Regions from separate parts of the Homo sapiens genome. Here region 1 is linked to region 2. The links come from fine-mapping of genetic effects on gene expression. A gene starts in region 2. The other region holds a variant in brackets. All regions are shown on one strand. Distances are from middle to middle.

The links. PIP is the estimated chance that this variant, and not a neighbour inherited with it, causes the effect. A credible set is the group of variants that fine-mapping cannot tell apart.
Region 1: its variant is the best candidate, but not a certain one, in a credible set for the expression of NFATC4 in whole blood (TOPMed, PIP 0.65).

What each region holds. Positions count from the first base shown.
Region 1 is chr14:24,387,415-24,391,794 of GRCh38, reverse strand. LOC124903292 (a long non-coding RNA gene) reads left to right here and starts at 2,386. Exons shown (of 3, transcript XR_007064086.1): 1 at 2,386-2,650. The variant T/A (reference allele first, on the strand shown) is at 2,182.
Region 2 is chr14:24,365,503-24,369,832 of GRCh38, reverse strand. It overlaps NFATC4 (nuclear factor of activated T cells 4), which reads right to left and starts at 1,649. Exons shown (of 10, transcript NM_004554.5): 1 at 1,393-1,649; 2 at 1-334. The coding sequence starts at 1,492. It overlaps LOC124903291 (a long non-coding RNA gene), which reads left to right and starts at 448. Exons shown (of 2, transcript XR_007064085.1): 1 at 448-586; 2 at 3,306-4,317. RefSeq lists silencers at 811-1,190, 2,909-3,218.

The sequences.
Region 1 (4,380 bases), 22 kb before region 2:
CGCGCCCGGCCTCCAGCCCTTCTTAAAACAAGCCTGGGGGCAGGTTCAGGAGGATCTACTCCTTGGCTGCCCAAGGACACCAGAGGACCCTGGTGGTTCCAACACTTACCTATATTTACTACCATGAGGCACTGCTGCACTTCGGGTGATTCATGAAGAGAAAAACAGGAGCAACAATGTTTCAGGGCTCGAAGGGTGTTGGGCTGGGCTTCCAAGCTGTGCGGAAGGGGCTTTTGGGGGGAGTATCTGCAGGAGGCTGGAGGGCTGAAGGAGGGTCAGTGAGCACGGTGGATGAAGGGCACATGCCTAGGAGCCACTGATGGCAGGGTGAGGGCAAAAGCTGGTCCCATGGAGGCTGAGGGGTCTCAGGCCATTAGTAGTCAAGCAGAGAAGGACAGGGAGTGGGAGCTCTGGGAAGTCTCTAGCAAGGTTATGACTAACCAAAGCCACTCTGAAGCTAACTGCCCCCCACTTCTCTCAGCCAGTCAATCATTAAGTCCTGCGAGTTGACTGTTTCTCCCTTCTTCCTTGTACTAAGAAGTGTCCACCATGTGCCAAACCATTCTAGGTGCTGGCGATACATCAATGAGTAAGTGCCCTGCTGTCACGGAGCCTGCGTCCAAAGTTGAAAAAAGCAATTGCATAATTATGTTTTGTGACTATATTGTTATGAAGTAAAAGCAATGCTGTAAGCCCCGCAGTTTTTTTAAAAATCAACTTATTTACCTAAGTTTCCTAAACTTACCTCAGAAACCATCCTCCTCCTCCACTTTTTGTGTATATAGAATTTATTTCTAAAGTAGTTTTAAGTTTAGAGCCAAGCTGAGTGGAAAGGAGACTTCCTATATGCCTCCAGTGCCCACATGTGCACAGCCTCCCCCCACTATCAACATCCTGCACCAGTGTGATACTTTTGTTAGAATAGAGGAACCAACATTGACCCAACATTAACAACCGAAGTCCATAGCTTACATTACAGCCTCTTTTTTTTAACAGAACAATGTGTTACCACTGAGACTGGCAGGTATAGGCAGGAGGGAGCCTACAAAGTTTCTCAGAGGGAAGTGGCACACTTGGATTAGTATTTTCTGCACAACCAGTTCGCTCATTTCTCCTTGTCTGACCCAAGAATGTGTCCATATCTTCTGAGTTTCATTTGGTTCAGATGCTACAGACACCTCCCTGGCCCAGGCTACTGAAATGACTTTCAAACTGATCTAGCAGCCACCAGACCATTCGCCTCCCTCACCCCTATTTGGCTCTGAATCCAGACTCCTAGTTAATTGAAGAGCATCACTTGCTCTGTGGCATGAGCTTACTCAAACTTTTCTAGTAACTCCCCAGCAGTGGTTTCCCATGTAATTATCCATAGAACCCATTTGGTGATGGCAGTTGAATACAGTAGTTAAAAACAGACTCTGATATCGGTAGCCCAGAGACTACTACATCCTAGCCCTGGAAATCCCAATTTCCTCACCTTTAAAAAGCGATAGGTGGGGGTGGGGGCGGGGGCTCACGCCTGTAATCCCAGCACTTTGGGAGGCCAAGGCGGGCGGATCAGGAGGTCAAGAGACTGAGACCATCCTGGCCAACATGGTGAAACCCTGTCTCTACTAAAAATACCAAAATTAGCTGTGTCTGGTGGCGCATGCCTGTAGTCCCAGCTACTCGGGAGGCTGAGGCAGGAGAATCGCTTGAATCCGGGAGGCGGAGGTTGCAGTGAGCTGAGATCGCACCTCTGCACTCCAGCCTGGGCAACACAGCAAAACTCCATCTAAAAAAATAAATAAATAAAGCAGTAGTGGGGAGGCCGAGGCAGGAGGATATCACTTGAGGCCAGGAATTCAAGACCAGCCTGGACAACAAAGCAAAACTCACCTCTACCAAAAAAAAAAAAATTAGCTGGAGTGGTGAGTGCCTGTAATCCCAGCTACTCTAAAGGCTGAGGCTGGAGGATCATTTGAGCCCAGGAGGTCGAGACTTCGGTGAGCCATGATCATGCCAGTGCACTCCAGCCTGGACAACAGAGCAAGAACCCAACTCTTTAAAAAAGAAGTGGTAGAGACTATGATGGGCTAGAGATAGAACGTCCAGTCTAAATGGCACAGCAGTTACTCAGCTCCAGTGGCTTGTTGCCAAATCTCCCCATTGTTAAGGAAAAAATATTGTAAACTTGACGTT[T/A]ATGTGAAATCTAATTTTGTTTCGCTGTAGCAGCTGTAGTAGACTGCAACCTATGGCCACAAATTCCTCCCATCTCTATCTGCCCACCCTTTACAATGGGACATTGCTGCTCCCCCATCAGAGATGAATTCTATTCCCCCTCCTCCCCGTTCTAGCCTGGCCTTGTGACTTGTGTTGGCCAATAAGATGCAGTGGGAGTAACATTTGTAACACTGAGTCGAGACCTCAAAAAGTCTTGCAACTTTGACTTTGAGCCTCTTGGAATGCTCTGTTCTTGTGTAAAGAGGCCCAGGATAGCCGGAAGGAAGGAAATTGAGATACCGGCAGAAAGAAGTCGCATGGGCAGACAGAAGGAAACTCATCTCAGCCATTCCAGCCGCCCCAGCTGAGGCTTCACACTTGGGAGTGAGGCTGTCTAGGACCAACTAGCTAAACTGCCATCTGAATGCAACCACATGAGTGTGCCCAGGTGAGACCAGGAGGAGAATCACCAGGTTAAGCCACAGAACTGTGAGGAAAAGTAAATTATTGTGGTTTTAAGCCACTAAGTTGGGGTGATTTGTTACACAGCCATAGATAACAAAGAGAAATAATTAAGGCATCTTGCCAATCAAATGCCTCAAGTCACCAGTTAGTGATCTCTTAGGTGTGAACTGCTTGAGGACAGGAATCATATCTTGTTGATCTTGGTATCCTGAGTGCCTACCATTGCCTGATAATTAACACATAGTAAATCCTTTGTGAACAAATAAATGGAGCTGTAAGAGGAGCTCCTATCACAGCTGCAGCAGCCTTGAGGATAGGGCTTTATCGTATGTGCCTTTCTAATCCCAACAGGCACTAACATTTTCTCCTGCAGTTTCTATAATCCTGTGTTAGTCATGGTTCTCCAAAGAAACAGAACCAATAGCAGAAACAGAGAGAGAGACAGAGAGAGAGATTATGGGAATTGGCTCATGTGATTATGGAGGTCAGGAAGCCCCACAATCTGCTGACTGCAAGCTGGAGAACAAGGAAAGCCAGTAGTGTAATTCAGTCCAAGTTTGAAAGTCATTTCAGCAGCCTGGGGAAGGGTGGTGTCTGTAGCATCTGAACCAATGAACCTCAAAAGATACGGACACATTCATGGGTCAGACAAGGAGAAGTGAGTGAACTGATTGTGCAGAAAACACTAATCTATGTGTGCCCTTCCCTCAAGAACCTGGAGCTCTGATGTCCGAGGGTAAAAGAAGATGGACGACTGGGCTCAAATAGAGATAATTTGCCCTTCCTCTACTTTTTTGTTCTACTCAGGCCCTCAATGTATTGAGTGATGTGGACCCACATTGATGAGGGAAGATCTTCATTTAGTCTACCAATTCAAATGCTAATCTCTTCCAGAAACACTCTCACAGATGTACCCAGAAATAATATTTTACCAGCTCTATGGGCATCACTTAGCCCAGCCAAATTGACACATAAAATTAACCATCACAAATCCTTATTAAAAAAAAAAGTTTGCTCAATGATGAAGTAGTGCAAATAGAATAACGAAATGGAGTGGCTAATGAACAACGGAGCCAAAAAGAATTGTGACATTTTGCTACATGTTGGGAGAACAAGAGAAGTGTTTGCCTTGACCTAATGGAACCTCAAAGAAACAATAGGGAGTCTCGATGGAGGCAGAAAATGAAGTGTAGCCAGATCCACCCCAAACTGGGAAACCCCAAACCAGGCAGGACTATGAGCAGTAGCCAATGGGTGCTAAGTTAGGAAGTGTCCGAGTTTTGAGGATGGAGAAAATAATACAAAAACAACACAAGATAAAATTGAGGCTGGGCACAGTGGCTCATGCCTGTAATCCCAGTACTTTAGGAGGCCAAGGCGGGCAGATCACCTGAGGTCGGGAGTTCAAGACCAGCCTGGCCAACATGGCAAAAACCCACCTCTACTAAAAATGCCAAAAAAAATTAGCCAGGCATGGTGGCATACACCTGTAATCCCAGCTACTAGGAAGGCTGAGGAAGGAGAATTGCTTGAACCCGGCAGGCAGAGGTTGCAGTCATCCGAGATCGTGCCATCGCACTCCAGCTTGGGTGACAGAGTGAGACTCTGCCTCAAAAAAAAATAAATAAATAAATAAAATAAAATTGAAATTTACCTACTCTGTCTTGGAAAAACCTTTGATGCTAGGGACTGGGGGTTGGCAAGGTACCAAGG
Region 2 (4,330 bases):
TCTCTAGGAGAGCCGTCCCCCCAGGCATCAGGGTTGTCCTCCAGCGCTGCTGGCGGCTCCGGCGTGGGAGAGATGGAGGTGATGCGGATGCTGGGACACTCGAGAACACGGCCACCCCCAGCACCCCCAGCACCCCCTCCTGGTCCTCCCAGCCTCACCGACCTGGCGGGCTGGCTCTCCCAGGTGCCAGGTGAGGGGGCTGGTCGCGGCGGTGGCGAATGCATGCCAGGCCGAGGGGGTGGAGGTCGGGGAATACCGATAGGTGCAGCGCCATAGGGAGGGGGCTCTCCCAAGGCCAGACGGCAGCATGGCGGGGCATCCTCTGAGTCCAGTTCTGTCAAAATGGGAAGAGGAGCAGAGGGAGAGGGGGAAAGAGAGAAGCAGGTGAGATGGCTATGTTCCTTGAGTGGCCAGGCCGCAAGTCCTTCTATGCTCCCTGCCCCTCAGCAAAGAGACCTTCTGAGCCACAAGACAAAAGCAGAGTTGGACCTGGGAAGATGGAGGAGATTGAAGCAGGCATGCCAGGCCTTTGCCCACTGGCCCCTGGATCCTAGGACCGAGGGTACCCGATCCAGTGGGTCTTAAGGTGAGAGAGGTGGGTCCAGAGGGGCTGGAGCTGGGGCTGGGCCTGGAGGCGTGTTTCTTGAGGCACTGGGCTGGACTGGGGGCGACTCACACATGAACCCAATTAGCAGCGGTTCCCAAACCCCCAAACGGCGCTGGCAGGAGCCCCAGTTGCCATCGCAACCGTGGCCAGAGGGGAGGGGGGCGTCAGGGCTGTGGTGACGAGGGGAGGTGGCTCCTCCCTCTCTCCTCGCCATCTAGGGGCGGAGGTGCAGCCGAGGGGGTGATGCGTGCTGGGCCCAGCCGGGGGAAGGGGGGCAGCGGGCAGCGCGGATTCGTGCGAGCGGCGGCCGCCGCCCCCGGCTCGGTCCCCGCCATCTGCCTCTCATTGCGGCCAGACGGGGGAGGGGGAGGGGCGCCCCAGCGAGGCCTGACAGCGCCCCCAGCCCCGGGCGTCCAGTCGGCCGGGCCAGAGCTCGGTCCGCCAGGGGCCAGCTCCAGCGCCAAACCTCCCCTTCCCCTGGCGGCGCCTGGTGCTGTTGGGGCCGTAGTTCCCGCCCGCCCCCCAGTTCAGTGACAGGCGGCCCAGCCGGGAGGCGGCGCACAGCCAACAGCACCCCCACCCCCACCCCAGTCACGACCTAAAAAGGAGAAAGTGGTGCCCGGGCCCCCAGCCTCACTTCCGCAGGCCAACGAGTCCCCCCGACTCCCTTCGACCTCTGACTCCCTCACCCCCCACCCTAGGCTCGCTGCCTTAAATTCCCCAGACTCAGGATCCCCGGCCCTCCTCTCACTGACCCCAAGACCCCTTCCCAGCCCAGCACTAACCTTCCCCCAATCCCCCCGCGCCCAGCGGGGGGGCCTCCTTTTCCTCCCCGAACACCAGCTTAAATTCCAGCTCCTCATCCTCGCAGCTGGCCGCCCCCATGGATCCGGCAGGAGCCCCCAGGTCCCGGCCTGGGTGGGAGGGGGGAGTTCAGGAGGCTGCTGTATCTTCACCCGGGTGGCTCCCTCCCTCCCTTTCTCTGAGAAGCCCCCTCCTCCGTCGCTGCCGCCTCCCTCCAGAAGCCCCCTCGTTATTATAGAAACTTTTCCAAACTTTTTTCCCCCAAACTTCTTCAAAGCGGTCCCCCCCCCAGCCTGTCCCTGATTGGCTGCCGGGGATGCTCCAGCCCCTCCTCCAGGGATGAGATGGGAAAACCACGCGCCCCTCGTCCTCCCCCACCCTCCCTCCCTCTGTCCTCTCTTCAGTCCCTCCCCCTCAAAAAAAAAAAAACTGAATTGGAAAACGGTCCTTCAAGAGTGATACTAATGTTGCCTATTGGTCCGCCGTTGTGACAATCATTTCCCGCAGAGAGCCCAGCCCCCACCTCCCCTAGTCTCAGTTCAAGGTTCTGGGTCCGAGAGCCTTAAAGGGGCCACATCCTGGGCCCCCAGGGTAGAGAGCCCACGGAAGACCCTTTTTTAAATTCTGAAGACTGTGTAGATAGCACCTAGCAAGGCAGAACCACTTCTCCTCCCCTTTCCCTCCAAGCCTGAGGCCAGGAGGGTCCTGGGGGCAGAGTGGCACCGAGTTGCTCGGAAGAGGAAAAGGCTATTCTTCCGCCTCCCTTGCCTGGGGCTACTCTGCCCGGGCCTTCTGGAAGTCTTTGCGCTGCCGAATCAGCGCCTCCATCAGCCATTCCTCCAGGACCCCCAAAGATGAAGAACGCTTAGCCAGCCTGGATGCCTCTGGGAGCAGTCCGAGCCAAAGAGGCTTTGAGAACTGTCCCTAGGCCCACAGCCCTTGATGGGCGTAGATCCAGGCCAGGCTTTGCCGCTGCCCTTGTCCCAGCCACCCAGAGGGGCCGTGAATTAGCCTCCACGGGAAGTTGGCAGCCTCCTCCCTAGAACTGTAGTCTGGAATGAATCTCTGACCCGATAGCATCCCACTCCGGCTCTTCTAAAAATCCTTGCCAGGTTTACTAGGGGCCTGAAACCTCCGGACCCTGTGGGTTCCCCTCCTCTTCCCCCTCCTTGGCCCCCCCGCCCCCAACAGGCTGGACACCTGTCACCTGGGCTGGAGGAGGAAGGAAGACCTGGACTGGAGTTTCCGGGAAAGTCAGGCTTGGAGAGGCCTGGGTTGTGTGAGAGGGAGTTAGATGGGAGATTCGTGACTCGGTGGGAGATACTGGCGAGGCTGGCGGGTAGGAGAGATGGGAGGGTGGTTATCATTTTCTCCCACACACACACAGTTTCAACCTCTCTTAGAGGCCGCGTCTCCAGTCTCTAAATCCCTCCGGTTCAGGGCCGCACCCCCAACGCCGCCCCATCCCAGCAACTAAACGGTTAAGCGACGGCCCCAGGTCAGACGTTTACAAACACTCAGAAGCCGGGCGGGGACCGCGCCCGTTACTCTAATGAGAAACAGGCTCTACGGGACTGGGGAAAGAAGGGAGGGCTGGCCCGACGGGCCGGAGCTCCGCAGCGGCCGAGGCGGCTTCCCTCCCTCCCCTCGGTCCTCCCTCGGGCCCGCCCAGGGGACCACCCCCCCAGTCCCCGGGGACCCCAGTGACGTGCGGAGCTGCCCCGGCTCCGAGCCCAGGGCCGCAACACAGGAGGGGCGGGGAGAAGAGCCCAGGCCGGCGGGGAGAGAAGAATGTTCCGAGGCCGAGCGGGGAAGCGGCCTGGTTTGATTTTCTTCTTTCTTTTTTTTTTTTTTCTTTTTTTTTTCTTTTTTTTCCTTTGGTTGGTCTCCTCAGGTTACATTTCCCTTCCAGCTTCATCTCGGAAATAAAGGAAGGAGAAACCCACGGGGAGGGAGGACGAGGAACACCTCGACCCATCAACCAGCCTGTACCTAAGAGGGCAAGGGAGGTGGGAAGCGGAGGCGAGAAAAGCAGGGATAGAGACCCCGAGGCCCAGCCCCTGTTCCCCCAGACTCTGCCCCTCCCCGGCCCCACTCCCCGCAGGCACAGCACATGCAGACGCACACATTCTTTTCAAATGTCATATTTCCTTTGATCCTGGGCAGCGTTTCTCCATGTGTCTGGCTCAGCTCCTGCCCAGCCAACCGCCTTCCCCTCTCACCCCTGTTTGTTTTCCTGGAGAACCCTCCTCCTCCTAGCATCTGGAAGGCCCTGAGGGCTGGCGTCGGCCCTCATTCCCCTGATGACTCTGGCCTCTCCTCCCATGACTCAATTTCCCCTTCATGGGTGTTGGGGGGTAGGGAAGGGAGGAGCAGAGGGGAGAGTGGTTGAGATTGTTCAGAGTGCCAAGCTTCTCTGAGGCGGGGGGCGGGGGGGCATCCCCTTGACTCTGAAAACCCTCCAATCTGTCTCGGCTGCGGCAGAGAGATGGAACTTATGACTTCTGAAATGCTCGGCCTGGCGTTGGAGCCTGGGCAACAGCGGGTAGTTGCGGATTTAAGTTGCCCTACACTTCTGCCCCCTGGCGACCAGAAAGACCCAGCCCCCCCGTCCTTGGTTCGCGGTTTCTCTAGCCGCCTGGCCTCGGTCTCAGCTCCGCTGCCTCCTAGCGCACATACCGGAGCACAACCCGGCTTTCTTACCTTGGTTGGTGGCTTCTGCTCTGCACTTTAACAAGCATCATTCAACTTCCTTGGAGGTGGATGTTATTTATTTCTTTTTTTAATTACACAAGATGCAGTCTTCTCTTTTCCCCAGAGGTCTAAATAAAGCTAATTAATATGCATTCTTCTTGTAAACAATTCAAGCTATACAAAAATATGTAGTAAACCTTGATGGTCCACCATTTTGTATGCCTT